Linked DNA regions of Homo sapiens: region 1 is linked to region 2. The links come from fine-mapping of genetic effects on plasma protein levels. A gene starts in region 2. The other region holds a variant in brackets. All regions are shown on one strand. Distances are between the middles of the regions.

Region 1 (8,000 bases), 22 kb before region 2:
GAGCAGGGCACAGGGTTGGGGCTGTCATCCTAGGCATGGGGTGTGGGTGGGGGTGTCATCCTGGGCATGGGGTGGGGGTGGGGTGTCCTCCTGGGTGTGGGGTGGGGAGGGGTATCATCCCAAGCACCGGATTGTGGTGGGGTGTCATCCTAGGCATGGGGTGTGGGTGGGGGTGTCATCCTGGGCATGGGGTGGGGGTGAGTGTCATCATGGGCATGGGGTGGGGATGGGGGTGTCATCATGGCACGGGGTGGGGGTGGGGTGTCCTCCTGGGTGTGAGGTGGTGAGGGGTATCATCCTGGGCACAGGGTGGTGGTGGGGTGTCATCCTGGGCATGGGGTGGGGGTGGGGCTGTCATCCTGGGCACCGAATGGGGTGGAGGTGTCATCCTGGCCACGGGGTGGGGGTGGGGCTGTTATCCTGGGCACAGGGTGGGGGTGGGGGTGCCATCTTGGGCATGGGATGGGGTGGAGGTGTCATCCTGGGCTTGGAGTGGGGGTTTCATCCTGGGCACAGGGTGGGAGTGGAGGTGTCACCCTGGGCAGCGAGTAGGGGTGTGGGTGGGGGTGTCATCCTGCTGTGTACGGGCACCAAGGAAGAATGAGGAGCCATGTATGAAGGGAGACTCTGGGAAGCCAGGCTGCCCACCTCACTTCCCTTCTCCTCGCCCTCCCCCAGCCACAGTCTCCCCAGGCTGGGAGACCTCAAGTCTGATTGCACCAACACCTGGTTTGCATTAAGAAGTTCCTGACTGCTGAAGGAAGCCTCCCATAGAGACTTACTCTTCCCGATTACATAGGGCTTTACAACTTACCAAGTATTTCCAATCATTTTTAATTTTTATCTTCCCACACCTCTTTGAGGTGAGCAGAGAAGGCGTTGTTATTATCCCAATTTTACAGCTCCATGGAAGGGAACTTGCAGACCCCAGCCCAGCCCCCTCCCTTTATAGACACATTAATGTGGCCCAGAGAGGAGAGGCTACTTGTCCAAGGCCACACAGGTAATGCATGGCAGAGTCAGGACAAGAAATGAACTCTCTTGGCTGACAGGCCGATGTTCTTGCTAATGCACTCACCCAGGACGTCCAGACTCCCGGGATTTCCCTGGGAAGTTGCTTAGGCTGGGCGCAGTGGCTCATGCCTGTAATCCCAGCACTTTGGGAGGCCAAGACAAGTGGATTGCTTGAGGCCAGGAATTCGAGACCAGCCTGGCCAATATGGTGAAACCTTGTCTCTACTAAAAATATAAAAATTAGCCGGGCGCGCCTGTAATCCCAGCTACTCAGGTGGCTGAGGCAGGAGAAGTGCTTGAACCTGGGAGGTGGAGGTTGCAGTGAGCCGAGACTGTGCCACTACATTCCAGCCTGGGCAACAGAGCAAGACTATTTCAAAAAAAAAAAAAAAAATCCCCTCGACTGGGCATGGTGGCTCATGTCTGTAATCCCAACACTTGGAGAGACCGAGTCGGGAGGATCACTTGAGCCTAGGAGTCAAGAGCAGTCTGGGCAACATAGGAAGCCCCCATCTCTAAAAGAAAAATAAACAAATTTAAGCTGGGCATGGTGGTGCATGCCTGTGGTCCCAGCTACTTGGCAGGGCTGAGGTGGGAGGATCGCTTGAGCCCAGGAGGTTGAGGTTGCAATGAGCTAAGATCACGCCATAGCACTCCAGCCTGGGCAACAGAGCAAGACACTGTCTCAAAAACAAAACAAAACAAAACAAAAAACAAGTCCCCTTAACAGCATTTTCCCCAATGTCTGCCTTTTCTTCATGAAAGTTGGGTGAAGATTAGGGAAGAAAAAAGATTGTGTCTTGACTTTGGCCCTGCCTTCCTGTTCTGGGTTAGGTGAGGGGAGGGGGCTGGTGAAGGGTGAGTGAAGGGTGTGGTGGCAGCCAGCCGGGGTTCCCATGGTGCCCTGCAGCCACACAGTCAGTGGTGGCTAACCCCTACCCTTCTCCTTTTCCATCCTATTTTCCAACCCTGGCCTGTGGTTATTGATGACCACACCGCTCCTCTGTGGCCTACAAGAACCCTCTTCAGCAAGGATTCACTTAATCACAACCAGAGGGCAGAAAAAGTGGACTCGGGCATTTTTTTAATAACCAGCAGCTACAAAGAGGACTGAAACAAATTGAGTTTTATTAAAAGAATCCTCCATTAGACAGAAAATGTTATTACCTTGCATCCTCTCCTCCCTGAGCTTTCTGCTTAATAGAGTATTGATTGAAACATACATTTCCAAAGTCTGGTCTCAGAGGAGTGGAAGGGGAAAAACCCAAATAATTCAGAAATGAAGAGACCTCTTGCAGAAATGCAAGAGACCTAGCTGAAGTATTATTCTCTGATAGATTTTGGAGGGATGCTGGAAAGAAAAACAATTAATTAAGCAAGTAACAGGCTGAGGTCTGGCCTGAAGCAAAAGTTTTGTGGCTGAGCTATAAAAAGGTTAAGTGTCTAAGGGAAAACCCAGAAGCATTCTAACCAGCTGCTCAAATGGGTGCTGCTATAATTCCATAGTTTGCACCTGACCTGGGCAACAGCTGGCTCTTGGCTCCCAGCAGGGAGAGTGTGTCCCTACTGATTGATCCAATTGAGAAATTCCTCTTCCACTTTGTACTTTGAAATCCAATAACTTACCTCCTTTCTTCCTCCCCCAACCCCAAAGACAGAAAATTAGCCAGTTGGGTGAATGGACTTCATAAGTGATTCATCATATCAATATCATATCAGGGATGCTAAAGACTGCCCTTTGAGGGTAAGTAGGCAACCATCTTGAGCTCAATTTTCCTCCCCCAATATGATCCTGAACATCCAATGGCTCCCTGCTACCTTTAGGATAAAGCCTAGGCTTCTTTGCATGCATCTCAAGTCCTCCAAACTGAAACTCACATTATCTTTCCAACTTAATCTAACAATTCTACATCATATGCCATCTGCCCCAGCCAAGCTACTAAGTCTTTCTTACCTATTCATTCGGATTCTTCCCAAAAAATGTGAGGGCCAGAGAAAAAAGATAATCTCAATGAAATCTTCCCTTTCCTTCCCCAGGATAGACTACAGACTTTCTGACCTTCCTCTCCCATTGCTTCCAGGATATGCCCCACCCTCCCCAGCCTGACTTCCCAAGCTTTTTTCAGCTTTGCTTCCCTGCCCTGCCTTCAGCATGGATGCTCTGGGTCCTGTTTTTGACCTTACACAATTACAAGTGTGACCAATTTAGTCCATTATCTGCATGTATTGTATTTGTCCAACCACACAGTAAAAATACCGAACTTCTGAATGACGGAACAAATGAATTTGCAATTAGCCCTTCACAAATACTTCATGGCAAGGCAAGGATAGAATGATTTGCTCAAGGGATCTTCAGTCTAGGGATTTGCTCAAGGGAACTTCATACACAGAGAGGTGAACTATGATAATAATCCATTAGTAGCCTAAAGGTTAGTTCATTTAAGTGACCAGTTTAGTTAGGGGTTGTTGGCACATCAAAGCAATGTTTATTAAACCTGGCAAAGTGTCACTTTGTGCTTGGGTACCTCAAACTTTTCTAGAGCTAGATGATAACATCTGCTTTCTTTTCAAGAGAAAAATAGTTTCCTTTCCCTGAGCATACAACATCTTTGTTTCCTCTGTTAACTAAGATGTCAGGCTGCCTTGAGTTATTTAAAGAGACAGAAAATGCCTTTGTTTCTCAGCAATATTCCCCTTGGATTCCTTTCACTGACAGCAAACAGCTACCTTGTTATAAGATGTATTTGCTTGCTTTAAAAAGGATATCACTCTATCTATCTAAACTCCACTTGCTGGTTTCCATCTTTACTTAGGATTTCTCTGGTCCCCTAAAGTCATTTCTGTGTATATTGCACTTCTTCGACATTGATATGGAAAGACCCCAAGCTTCATCTTCCTTTTCCTGAGAAAAAAACCCTCCTCCTCCTTTTTAAGGGCTAATAACTCCATTTTGCAAACATACCATTTCAACCCCAGCAGTTGAAACCAAAGGATGCGGCTG[C/T]TTTGCTAAAACCAGATAAATGGGGCGGCTGCCCTGGTTACCGCAGAGACAAAAGCCCACTTTCCAGGAGAATGAGGGCCACATCTGGGAGCCTCAGGCCTCGCCCCTTCCCCCTTGCTGAGGCCCCTTGCTTTCTGCTCAAATAGGAGTGGAGGAAGAATAGTTTCTGCTGCTGACTTGTGACTTTGTGGCGCCTCAGCGGGGGAGCAGAGGGGAGGGAGCACTAATCTAAGACTTGTCTGGTCTAGCGGGAGGGCCCTGGGCTGGGGGCCTGGAGGCCCAGGCTCTCGCCTAAGCCAGCTGTTTGGTGACCTTAAGCAAATCATCTTCTCCTCTCTGGGCCTCAGTTTCCCCAGCCATATAATGAGGGACATTTATGAATTATTTTGGTTTCAGTTTCCCCAGAAGCTTGAGTCAAGGATTCAAGTGTGAGTAATAGGTCATTTAGAAGGTGATCCCTAGAAACTCAGGTGAAGGGTGTGGAAGTGAGACAGAGAACGGAAGGAAGCCAGTGTGAGGCATGCTGCTGAGCAGGTTGTCACCACAGGCAACTGGTGTTGGAAACACTCTGGGAGACAGAGTTGGAAAACACACCTCAGAGTTCATCTGCCCAAGGGGTAAGGAAACTGGGGATTTATCCACCAAATGCTCGTCCCTCATTCATAGAGGGCTGTTCGCCAGGGATATCAATTCTTGGGCACTTTGGGCTTTGCCCCACGCTGGCCACAGTGCTCATGGGTATTAGATGTGAGCGACCTGAATTCAGTGTGGAGGTGAGTGCTGAGGAGATGGGTCAGGGCACCGACAGCATCCGCTCTAATAATTGACCTTTACAGCCCTGAAAAGCTGTGAATTTGCACTTGGGCAAAGTAAGCAAACCTAGGGCTTTGGTATGATAGGCAGGGCAAAAGAACTGTATTCTGTGCAATCAATGACAGTCCCCTACTTCCTTCCCCATGGTTCTAGACCTCTAGGCTGTTCCCAGGGAGAACAGAACAGAAATAAAGTTCATCTCTAACTATTTAGAATGGTGAATTTACCCACTGGCCAGAGAAGATGATGAAACTATAGAGACTCCATCCCACCTTCCTTTCCCATTGCTTCCAGGATATGCCCCACCCTCCCCAGCCTGGCTTCCAAAGCATTTCTCAGTCTGATTCCAAGATATCTTTTCTTTTTTTTTTTTTTTTCGTTTTTTGCTTCCCAACACAAACCACCCACCACTGTTAGGTTTTCTCTCTCCTCACTTCTACGTAGGCCATTCCTACAGATACCCCTACAGTATCTTTCATCTTATTGACTGGTCAGAATTCTAAATGTCTTTCAAGGACCAGTGCTATTTCACCTTCTCCAGGAAGTGCTTCATGACCGTTCTCGGGTTAGAAATATCCCTCTTGGCCAAGCACAGCGGCTCACTCCTGTAATCCCAGCATTTTGGGAGGCTGAGATGGGAGGATCACTTGAGTCCAGGAGTTCAAAACCAGCCTGGGCAACATAGTGAGACCCCCATGTCTCTACAAAAAATTTAAAAATCTGCCTAAAAGCAGCCACCAATTAAGAAAGCGTTTATGCTCAACATCTGACTATCTTTAATTCCAACCAGTAGTCCCAGCTACTCAGAAGGCTGAACAGAGAGGATCACTTGAGACCACGGCTGCGGTAAGCCAAGATCATGCCACTGCACTCCAGCATGGGCAACAGAGAGAGATCCTGTCTCAGAAAAAAACAAAAACAAAACAAAAAGAAAGAAAGAAAGAAAGAAAAAGGGAGAAGGAAGGAAGGAAGGAAAAGGGGAGAGAAGGTAGAGAAGGAAGGAAGGAAAAGGGAAGGGAAGGTAGAGAAGGAAGGAAAAGGGAAGGGAAGGTAGAGAAGGAAGGAAAAGGGAAGGGAAGGTAGAGAAGGAAGGAAAAGGGAAGGGAAGGTAGAGAAGGAAGGAAAAGGGAAGGGAAGGTAGAGAAGGAAGGGAAAGAAGGGAAGAAGGAAAGAAGGGAAGAAAGAAAGATCCTTCTTCTCTGAGTATCTATTGCCTCCAGCACGCATCCAGCCTATGCACACTAGACTCTGTCATTTCTCAGAGGCATGCCTGGCCTCCCTCAAATGGGAGACAACTTCTTTATACTACTTGGGTGCCTATCTCCCAGTCCCTAGCAAGTATCCTAGAGACAGGAAATGTTGAAATAAAGAACAGTTTGGCAAGTATTTATTGAGCACCTGAGTATACAGACACTGTACAAGGAGCAATGGGGTAACTCAAAGGTAAGTAAGATCCCACCATGGCCATAAAGAATTTCAGAGTCAAAGTTGTCCTAGGTAATAGAAAGTCAGGATTTGCAAGAATGGCTCTTGGGGATCATCAGCTCTAAGTGCCTCCCTTCATAGATGCGGAATCACAGAAGAAAATGACTCACCTAAGGTCACATAGCTAGTGAGTAGTTCTACATTAATTTGTTGCTAACAGAGGGCCCCAGGCTGTCCTTTTTTTTTTTTTTTTTGATCATTTGTGCAAGTTCAGAAACAATCTTCTTTCTTTTCCTTTGTCTTTTTTTCCACTTTAAAGGAAAATGAAATTTACTGGCTTCTCTTTCTAAAGAGAAGGGGCAAGGAATAAAAATACCAGTTATGTAATAGTCATTTGCCTTAGTCATGCAGCCCTGCCGGAGTGCTGTTCGAACAGAAAGATGATTAAGTTAAACACTGCATATTTATTCCCCTGCGGTCACCCTAATTGGTTCTGCCGCTGTAATTGATTTGACAGGTTATTTTTACTCAGAATGAGCTGGGTTCCTCTGCTGGCTTGCAGATTTGCTCTTGCTCTTCGAGTCCAGGCCGGCAATTGTCCAGATGGCCAGATGTGGCTGATTTCTACCTGAGGAGGGGGAGGGGGGTCCTCAACCTAGCCTGGGGAGAACTGAGCTTGCAGTGTGAATGTGTGAAGGTATGAGTGCTTGTGTGTGCGTGTGTGTGTGTGTGTGTGTGTGTGTGTGTGTGTGTAGGGGTTGATGGGGGAAGAAGGATAGAGAAGCTCAATGTCATGCTTCAAGGGATCAAACTGGGAAGGAGCTAGGAAAAAATTCAACATGACATGAAACTATGTTAAGGATTTTATTCTGAGGGCAGAGAAAGTCTTATATGGTTTGGAACAGAGGAATGGAAGACCATGTGGGGGAGAGCTTTTTGCCTACAGAGGCTTCTGTACTTTTTGTCTATTCCAAGCAGCCACCTCTTCCCACCACTGCAAACTGCTCCCCAGAGTACAAAGTACATAGAACCAGTGTTCTCGGGTAGCCTGCAGCACCAGCCACCTACACATCCTTCCTCATCTTTGCACGCAGCTCAGTGCCTCCCGCTTTGCCTGCTATGAGGGGAGAGTGTGCTGGCAAATGCTCAGAAACCCATGGGAGACCTCTAGAAGTTGGCAGGGACCCCTTGAGGGAGCTGGCCCCCTGCAGAGAGCCAGGCCATGGGTTATTAGAACCATCTCAGTGATAATGTGTGACTTCGAATATCAACTAACCTTTGAACTTCAGAGTCTTAATCATGTATCAATGTGGGATAACCATAGGCTCTGTCCCATCCCCTCACTAGGTTATGACAACAGTAACCACAAGTAATAATCACAGTATGTCAAGGTCTGAATCAAATGCTTCCTGCCGTGCACGATCACATGCTATCTTCACAGTGTGATCGAGAAGGAGTTATTATTATCCTTCCTTACAGATAAGGAAGCTGAGGTTCAGAGAGTTGAAAAACTCTACTATGGGAATACAGCTCATGAGTGTTAGAATTCAGGCAGGCTGGCCCCAGCCCTTGTCTCTCTCTCTCTCTCTCTCTCTCTTTTTCCTTTAAGTCAGGGTCTCGCTCTGTCACTCAGGCTGGAGTGCAGTGGTGTGACCTCAGCTCATTGCAGCCTCTATCTCCCAGGCTCAAGTGATCCTCCCACTTCAGCCTCTCAAGTAGCTGGGACTACAGGTGCATACCACCATGC
Region 2 (9,636 bases):
AAGTGAATCTAATCCATAGAAGTGTTGAAAATAGGGCCTAGCACTTGTAAGACTTCAATAGGTGCTAACCTTCATTATTTTTTAAAATGTCATTAGTGAGATATAATTTACATACCATGCACTTCAACCATGTCAATCAGTGGCAGGAAGTTCTCATGGGCTGCAGATGCTGGGCTGTAAGTAAGGTGCAGACTATTCCAGATGCGATGTTATTTTACGAGGTCAGGATTCCACTCTTTCTCCTGTCACACACCCAGGGCCTGACTACACTGAAGCACTAACAGGCCCTCTCTGAAGGCCAGTAACACGTTCACGCCTGACCCGAAAGTGCAAATCACCATTGTCTCCTTCTGTGCCACTCTACAACCCATGTTTCACACACTGGAGACACCTGACACTGCTTTTGCCCTACACATTTTTTTCTTCTCTCTCTTTTTTTTTTTTTTTCAGATGAAGTCTTGCTCTGTCACCAGGCTGGAGTGCAGTGGTGTGATCTCATCTCAATGCAACCTCTGCCTCCCGGGTTCAAGGGATTCTCCTGCCTCAGCCTCCCAAGTAGCTGGGACTACAGGCACCCACCACCACACCCAGCAAATTTTTGTATTTTTAGTAGAGACAGGGTTTCACCATGTTGGCCAGGGTGGTCTCGATCTCCTGACTTTGTGATCTGCCTGCCTCAGCCTCCCAAAGTGCTGGGATTACAGGTGTGAGCCATCGTGCCTGACCTCCTTCTCTTTTTAAAATCTGTTTTTTCACTGAGTTATAACTTTTATACAGTATACCCTATTTCCTTTTAAAATTTATTTTTTTTAAAGTGTGGCCCAATATACATAATAAAATTTACCATGTTAACCATTATGAAGTATACAGTACAGTGACATTATGTATATTCATCCTTGTTCTGCTCTCATCACACCATCCACCTCTGGAACTCTTTTCGTCTTGCAGAAGTTCTGTACGCATTAAATACTAACTCTCATCGCCTCTTACCCAACCCTCTGGAAACCACCATTCTACTTTTTGTCTCTATGAATTTGTTTATTTATTCATTTATTTTGAGATGGAGTCTCGCTCTGTCTCCCAGGCTGGAGTGCAGTGGTGTGATCTCCACTCACTGCAGCCTCCACCTCCAGGGTTCAAGCTATCCTTCCGAGTAGTAGCTGGGATTACAGGCATGCACTACTACACCCGGCTAATTTTTGTATTGTTAATAGAGACGGGGTTTCTCCATGTTGGCCAGGTTGATCTCAAACTCCCAACCTCAGGTGATCCTCCCGCCTTGGCCTCCCAAAGTGCTATAATCCAAAGGGATTATAGGCATGAGCCAGCACGCCTAGCCTGTATTTGACTACTCTACATATCTCATATAAGTGGATTCATAGAACATTTGCTCTTTTGTGACTGATTTATTTCACTTAACATGGTCTCAAAGTTCATTCACACTGTAGTATGTGTAAGAATTTCAACCCTTTTGCTGGGCGCGGTGGCTCACGCCTGTAATCCCAGCATTTTGGGAGGCCGAGGCGGGTGGATCACGAGGTCAGGAGATCGAGACCACGGTGAAACCCCGTCTCTACTAAAAATATAAAAAATTAGCCGGGCGCAGTGGCGGGTGCCTGTAGTCCCAGCTACTCCGTGGGCTGAGGCAGGAGAATGGCGTGAACCCGGGAGGCGGCGCTTGCAGTGAGCCGAGATTGCGCCACTGCACTCCAGCCTGGGCGACACAGCAAGACTCCGTCACAAAAAAAAAAAAAAGAATTTCAACCCTTTTGAAGGCTGAACAATCCTCTATTGTATGTCTATATCATATTTTGCTTCTCCATCTGTTGACAGATGCTTGGGTTGCTCCCGCCTTGTGGCTACTATGAATAATGCTGCTATGAACAGGGGCATACAAATATCTGTTTAAGCCCCTGCTTTTAGTTCCTTTGGGTATATGCCTCTGTTGATTTTATTTATTTAATTTTTTGAGATGGAGTTTCGTTCTTGTTGCCCAGGCTGGAGTACAGTGGTGCTATCTCAGCTTACTGAAACCTCTGCCTCCCGGGTTCAAGCAATTCTCCTGCCTCAGCCTCCTGAGTAGCTGGTATTACAGACATGCACCACCACGCCCGGCTAATTTTGTATTTTTAGTAGAGGCAGGGGTTTCACCATGTTGGTCAGGCTGGTCTCAAACTCCTGACATCAGGTGATCCACCTGCCTTGGCCTCCCAAAGTGCTGGAATTACAGGAGTAAGCCACTGTGCCGGACCTCTATACCTCTGTTGTTTTTAATGTAAAAATAACATGCCTCTATTATTTTTAATGTAAAAAAATAAAAATAATTTAAGGTCATACACTCTCACTGCATTTGTAGAACTCTATTTTCATTTCAATGCATCCTCTCTGGTGGCTGTTCATATGCAGGTATTTTTAAAAGTAAATGCTACTATAATGGACCAACAATTTTCCAACTACTCTTTTTTATGTCCACATTGCTAACAGAACCATAGACCATGGGCCTGAGCCAAGACTGATTTGTGACTTTATTATCTTGGAAAATAGGAAACGGAAAACACAGTGACCTCTATAAACATATATACGTACATACAAGATGTACGCAAGGACAAAAACATATGAATTCAGAGAGGAAACTCACACAACATGTACCCGTTTCACTTAAATAACTGGGGCTGGACTTTGAAAGAATGAGATGTGAACAAGACCTCAGAGGCACAGGCAGAGACATCTTACATGCACACACATGTGAATCTCCACAACACCCCTGTATGCATAGAGAGTGCAACACACCAGGACACACATAAATGGTAAAAAATAAACTCATACACACACAACCTCACACTTACCAGGATCTTCTCCTTGCCCCCAACTCCCAGACCGGCAATTTCTGAAGGCTGGGAAGGAGATCCTGCAAGAGAACTGAAAATAGCTCTGTGAACCCTGCCCTGGGCTCCAAGTGCCCGCCCACAGCCCTGTCCCATGCTCCCAGCTCAGCCTTGGCCCCATGCCTCGGTCTGCACACAGCCCCAAGTCCAACCCCCTGCCCCAAATCTTTCTGAGTCAGACCTGCTCTCTCTCAATACTTTCCTTGGACAGTACCTGTATCCAGCTCCTTCTGTCATAGTCATTCTCCCAAGGACACTCTGTAATCCACGCCAGAAATTCTGCTGTGGGCTTTGGGGACATAGGGACCCACGCTGGGCTAGCAGTAAGGGGCTGGTATTCCACGGCCAGTCAAGCTTGGGCCAACAACAGCTGAACTGCCTGCCTCTCTGGTCCCTCCTCCATAAAGCAGCAATGCAACAATCATCTTGTAGACACTGAGAACTTTAAACATGACCACATCCTTGAAGTCCCAAGCCCAGTCCTGGCATAGGGCAGCCCCACAAATGGTGTTAATCTCCTGCCCTCTGTTCCCTAAGCTGTCAGATAGGGCAACGCCTAAGCCTGCATGTTTTAGGGGTTGCTGTGAGACAGGAATTTTTAATAATTTTGACTAAGTTCTCCACATGTAAGATATCATGACCACCGAACTGAACAGTGCTGGAAGCCAAAGGTTCTATCTTTCGAACAAACTAGAGAGCAATTGGTCTATTGACTAATGTATGTTGAACACTACGTTAGAGCAGTAGGGTAAAGTTAGCCACACTCCTCAGTTACACACATCAGTCATACACACCTGAATGCACTTATTTATTTTCCCTCTTTAGCCTTATCCTCTATTCTCCCATACACCCACACTCAAACATCTATTCTACTCTGTTCAATATTTACCATTTTATTCCCACTTTATTTATTTATTTAGAGATGGAGTCTCGCTCTGTCACCAGGTTGGAGTGCAGCGGCGTGATCTCTGCTCACTGCAACCTCTGCCTCCTGGGTTCAAGTGACCCTCCTGCCTCAGACTCCCAAGTAGCTGGTATTACAGGCTCCTGCCATCGTGCCTGGCTAATTTTTGTATTTTTAGTAGAGACAAGGTTTCACCATGTTGGCCAGGATGGTTTCGAACTTCTGACCTCAGGTGATCTACCCGCCTTGGCCTCCCAAAGTGCTAGGATTACAGGCATGAGCTACCGCACCTGGCCTATTCCTACTCTTTTATTATGGTAAAATGTACATAACAAAATTGACTATTTTAACCATTTTAAGTGTACAGTTCCATGGCACTGACTGCATTCACATTGTTGTACAACCAACTCCACCATCCATCTCCAGAGTTTTTTCATCTTCTTCACCTGAAACTCCATATCCAGTAAACAATAATTCTCCATTCCCTCTCCCTTTGGCCCTTGGCAACCACTATCTCCTTCCTGTCTCTAAGAATTTAACTATGCTAGGTACTTCTGTAAGTGGAATCACACAATTTTTGTTCCTCTGTGGCTGGTTTATTTCACTTAGCATAATATTCTCAAGGTTCATCCACAATGTATCATGTGTCAGCATTTCCTTCCTTTTAAAGCTAAATAATATTCCATTGTATGGGCCAGGAACAGCGGCTCATGCCTGTAATCCCAGCACTTTGGGAGGCCGAGGCGGGCAGATCACCTGAGGTCAGGAGTTCAAGACCACCCTGGCCAACATGGTGAAACCCCATCTCTACTAAAAATACAAAATTAGCTGGGTGTGGTGGCACATACCTGTAATCCCAGCTACGAGGGAGGATGAGGCAGGAGAATCACTTGAACCTGGGAGGTGGAGGTTGCAGTGAGCCAAGATCGCGCCACTGCACTCCAGCCAGGGCAATAAGAGCGAAACTCTGTCTCTAAATAAATAAATAAATAAAATTTAAAAATTCCATTGTGTGACTACAATACATCTTGTTTTTCCACCCATCCATTGATGGACACTTGAGTTACTTCTACCTTTTGACTGTTGTGAATAAGGCTGCTACGGACATGGGTGTGGAAATACTCGTAGTCCCTGCTTTCAATTCTTTTGGGTATATCCCCAGAAACAGAATGACCGGATCATATGGTAATTCTGCTCAGTTTTTTGAGGAACTGCCATACATACACCACAGCATTTTCCTCAGAGGCAGCACTACTTCACATCTTCACCAGCAATGTGCAAGGATTCTAATTTCTTCACATCCTTTCCAACATGTTATTTTCTGTTTTTTAAAAGCGAATAGCTGGCCAGGCGCGGTGGCTCACGCCTGTAATCCCAGCACTTTGGGATGCCAAGGTGGGAGGAATCAGCTGAGATCAGGAGTTTGAGACCAGCCTGACCAACATGGATAAATCCCGTCTCTACTAAAAATACAAAATTAGCCAGGCGTGGGTGGCACATGCCTGTAATCTCAGCTACTCAGGCGGTTGAGGCAGGAGAATTGCTTGAACCCGGGAGGCGGAGGTTGCAGTGAGCCAAGATGGCACCATTGCACTCCAGCCTGGGCAACAAGAGCGAAACTCCATCTCAAAAACAAAGAAAAAAAGATAATAGCCATCCTAATGGATGTGAAGTGGTTCAATGTATATCTTTTTATTTGTATAACTTCTTTCAAAATGTATATAATTATTTTGTGTATATGTAATTTGTTTTACATAGTAGCATTATGCTATTCCTTTCCCTCTGTGTCTTACTATTTTCTGTTGGAACTGTGTTTAAAATCTATACATTTGTTTTATGTACATGGAATTCATTGCTTCTCACTTTTGCATAGCACTTTATAGTATGCATGAATCACATCCATGTATATTGAGAACCTACTATGTGCTTGTACCAAGCTTTCTATATGATTTAATCTGATTCCATACAGCAATCCTAAGAAGGTGTTGTAATTATCACATTTTATGGATGAGAAAACTGACACACACAGAGTTAAGGAACGTGCCCAGAGTCACACAGCCGGAAGTGGAAGAGGTAGAAGTTTAACCCAGGTCATTCTGGTGCCACAGAAGAGCTCACACGTGTAAGGTGTTACAAAGAGCTATAGGTAGAGATCTGACTGTAGACAGAGGCTCTCTCTTAGGTGAGGGCACTCTGATAAAAGTTCTAGTCCTGATTTGGCTACTTATCTTCACAGTGCAAATCACCTTCCCTTACAGACATCACTTTCTGTCTGTGTAAGATGAAGATGATTTTAATGCTTTTTCTAGATTCACTACTTGTTGATTAAATACCCTTAAGCTAATGGGAAAATAATCAGAATTGAAGTCAGGTGTTTGTTTCTTTCGTGTATTTGGAGTGGCTGGCCTACCTGGGAGCCACTCCAAATACACGAAAACCCTCTGATGTGTCTATTCACGAGGTGAACTGTTCATAGGATGGACTATTCCCAGGGAAACAGTTGCTGTCTCCACTTCCATCCCACCTCTCCTGAACTTTGCACTTACCATGGTGAAAAATTAACTGGGCTAATGTTTCCCTCCCAAGGACAACCTCTGCAAAAGCAGGTATGGCTGGGCCCCAAAAGACCAGGTGCCAGAACAGAGTTGTACCCATCCAGAGCAGCCCACCCATTCACTGCCCAAAGTCAAGATCAAGAGAACATGCAGGGTCTTCTCAGCACTGGAAGAATCAGTTCCTCAGCCCTCCTCAGAGCTTTCTGAAACTGGACTTAGTCCCCCAGTGGAGGGACTTCTCTTGGAGAAACAGGCCTGAGGAGAAAGAACTAGCCCAGAAATGGCACTTATTAGACTTGTAGGTGGGTCCAGCACTATTTTTCTGCATGCACAGCTGTTCTTGTCACACGGATGCCAGCAGGGAAGCATGGTTCTGCCACACTAACTAGCTGGCTGCCTAGTTATTTCCTCCCCTCAGGAAAATGAGAGGGCTGAATGAGGGCCCCTTCCCATACCATGATTTTACAGGGTGAAGTACCTGTCAGGTCCTTCTACTACATGTAATCCTCAAATCTCTCTGACGCTCTTCCTCTACAGTGCAAATCACTCTCCTTCAGCAGACATTGCTCTCTCTGTAACATAAAGGACTTGAACTACAGGAGGACAGTTACAATGCTCTTTCTGGATCCACCACTCTGCACAGTGAGAACCGCTTGCTCCATTCTTACAGCGGAGAGAACGGACGCTGCCCAAGGGGAAGAAGAGAAAGAGCCGGGATTGGAAGCCAGGCCAGTCACTGATGGATCCTGAGCCCCTCTTACTTTCTTTGGCTACCTCTCAATGGTTGGACTTGTTCAGGTTAAGATTAACACTTTACTGGACGATGATGACTGCAAGGCCCCTGCCCATCTTTGCCCACTCAGTCACATCATCCTCATCCCCACCCTTTGATGCTTCTCTAGGCTGTGAACGCCTTGAAAACCTTAGTCTTTTATTTTGGAAGTTCAGGAACTGAATAGGAGGGCTGCAACTCAGAGCTGCTCCGTCAATGTGTGTTAAACTTATTTGACCTCCCTCCACCACTTTTCATGGCATTAGCAATGCAAACCTTTTCACATGAGCTTCCCACAGCCACCCTAGGAGATCGCGAGGGAAGCTACCTCTAGCCCCATTTTACAGGTGAGCAAATAATCCTTGCAGTGTTACAACAGTGTGCCCGTGTAGAGAACTGTTTTGCAAAGAGCTCGATCAATGATGTCATCTTTGCCTTCCGTGACCCAGGCAGCTGGGTGCAGTCTCAAGATCGGAGACTGAGGCTTCAACAAAGTATTGGGTTCAAATTCCAGCTCTGCCACTTGGAACCCTGAGTAAGTAATGTAATCTCTCTGTGCCTCCGTAAACGTGAGGCACAGGAACATCTACCTCACCAACCACTGTTAAGACTGAATCAAAGGGCAGCAGGCGGACTACCCGGAATGAAGAAAGCAATCAATAAATGTGGATTGTGTCATCCTTGTCTCTCTTGACGGACGGGAAGAGGAGAGTGAAACCTAAGACCACAGCGGCAGCGCGTTAACAGGAGGACCAGCAAGGAACGGAAGCCAGGTTGTCAAGCCTCAGTTGGCTTTCACGTATTCTCCTTTTCAGGCGGGTATTTAGGAAGAGAGGAGGGTGAGGAGCACAGCGCACTTCTGCAGCAGCAGCTGCGGATTGGCTTGTGGGAGGCGGTTCTCCGGAGCAAGGCAAGGGCCCCTGCCGCTTCTGGGCTGACTGTGGATTCCGCCACACCTCACAGGGCTTTGTAACTCCCCACCCACTTGAGGGTTCCAGATAACTTTTTTTTTTTAACAAAGCAGGGGTGGGGGTGGGAGATTCCTGCTGTTAAAAACAAACAAAGGGCTTAGACACCGGCTAGTCGGCTGCGGGAGGCAGCAAGAGAAAGGCCGAGGGGCCTGGAGTAGCTCCTGAAAACCGCCGAGGGCCCTGCGGGCAGACGCCCCTGAATTCTTTTGGTGGGGAGAAAAGCCGCGGAGCTCCCCAATGTGCCAATTGGTTTGTTGTTGTTTTGCTTTTTTTGAATACACAAACTCTCCGAAAACTCCTGTCTTGCCCCACTTTTTTGTGAGTTCATTGCTTTGGAAACAAAACTCTCTTCCATTTATTGGCAATTATCAAATTTCCGATCCTTCTCTATCAGGAGATCCAGCAACAAACACCCTGTTATGTAAATTTCTTTCAAAGATAAATTCGAAAGCCCCTCCATTCATTCCTTCAAGAACTCAACAGATGTCCTTGAGGCTCATTTTCTGCCGGGCACTCGGTTCACAAGGCTCAAGAGACCCCTGGCTCCAGCCATTGTCCAGGTTGTCACTGGTGTCCCCAGCTCTCCACTTCTGAGGACCCACTTCTCACCCCCTCCTCCTCCGCACACGTTCCCGAGGCTCTCGGCCGGTGTGATCTCACCGACTAGAGAATAAAAACAGCCCAGGGGCGCCGGCGCCGGCCAAGGGCCTTGACGGGGATCAGCAAGCGCGAGGCCAAGTGCGGGCCCCAACTTCCTGGGCCCGGGCCTTCCGCGCGCCCCCTCTCGGGCTCGGGTCCTCTCCAGGGTGCACTCGCGTCCGGACGACGCTTACTTGCTGCGAGTCCAACCCTCTCCGGCCCGCAACTCCAACCGAGCCGCCCGAGTGTGGACTCCGAGAGCGGACGCCACGGGCCGCGCTCAGCCCTCCCGCCCGAGGCCCCTCTCGCCGTGTTTCCCAGGACTTCCTCCCCGCGCCCGCCCGACTTCAGGTCGGGGCCGCGCAGGGTCCCGCGCGCTCCAGCCAGGACTGCCGCCGCCCGGGTCGCCCACGTGGGCGTGCTGGGCGCGGGGTGGTGGCCGGCCGGGCGCCCTCCCCGGAGCAGGGGGCGGGCAGGGCGCCCGCGGGAGGAGGTGGCGGGGCGCGGGGGAGGAGGCGGGGAGCCCCGGCGGCGAGGGGGCGGTGACAGCACTTGGAAAGGAGGCTGCACGCGGATTTGCATGAAACACAGACTGGGAGCGGGCGGGAGCGGGAGCGCGGCGCACGCCCCGGGCCGGCCCAGCCAGCGAGCGAGCGAGCGGCGAGCCGGGAGGAGGAGGGTGGCGGGGCGGTGAGGCCGCAGAGGCGGAGGGATCTGCGCATCAAAGCTAGCGAGGCGAGCGAAGTTTGGCCGGGGGTTGGACTTTCCTTCCCGGAGGCGGCACCCAAACAGCTACCCCGTGCGGAAACCCAAACTTCTGCTGCCACTTGGAGTCTCGCGGCCGCCGCCTCCGCCCCGCGTTCGGGGCCTTCCCGACCCTGCACTGCTGCCGTCCGCCCGCCCGGCCGCT

Which allele goes with the higher level. Alleles are on the strand shown, and positions count from the first base shown. The strength of an association depends on the size of the effect and on how common the allele is.
In carriers of allele T in region 1, the plasma level of the protein whose gene starts at base 9,309 in region 2 tends to be higher than with C alone (moderate association).

The links. PIP is the chance, under the fine-mapping model, that this variant and not a neighbour inherited with it causes the effect. Protein levels are from antibody-based Olink assays in UK Biobank. Linkage for the fine-mapping came from a reference panel and not from the study's own genotypes, which makes the PIPs less certain.
Region 1: its variant is fine-mapped to the plasma level of the SMAD3 protein (UK Biobank, PIP above 0.99).

Annotation. Positions count from the first base shown.
Region 1 is chr15:67,035,361-67,043,360 of GRCh38, forward strand. The region is part of intron 2 of SMAD3-DT (SMAD3 divergent transcript); the gene reads right to left. Among named protein-coding and RNA genes, the nearest start is that of SMAD3-DT, 25 kb to the right of the region's middle. The variant C/T (reference allele first, on the strand shown) is at 4,016.
Region 2 is chr15:67,056,294-67,065,929 of GRCh38, forward strand. SMAD3 (SMAD family member 3) reads left to right here and starts at 9,309. Exons shown (of 9, transcript NM_005902.4): 1 at 9,309-9,636. It overlaps SMAD3-DT (SMAD3 divergent transcript), which reads right to left and starts at 7,889. Exons shown (of 6, transcript NR_135686.1): 1 at 6,823-7,889; 2 at 2,847-2,919. RefSeq lists enhancers at 6,255-6,399, 7,557-8,327, a cis regulatory region at 6,320-6,333 and a silencer at 9,086-9,575.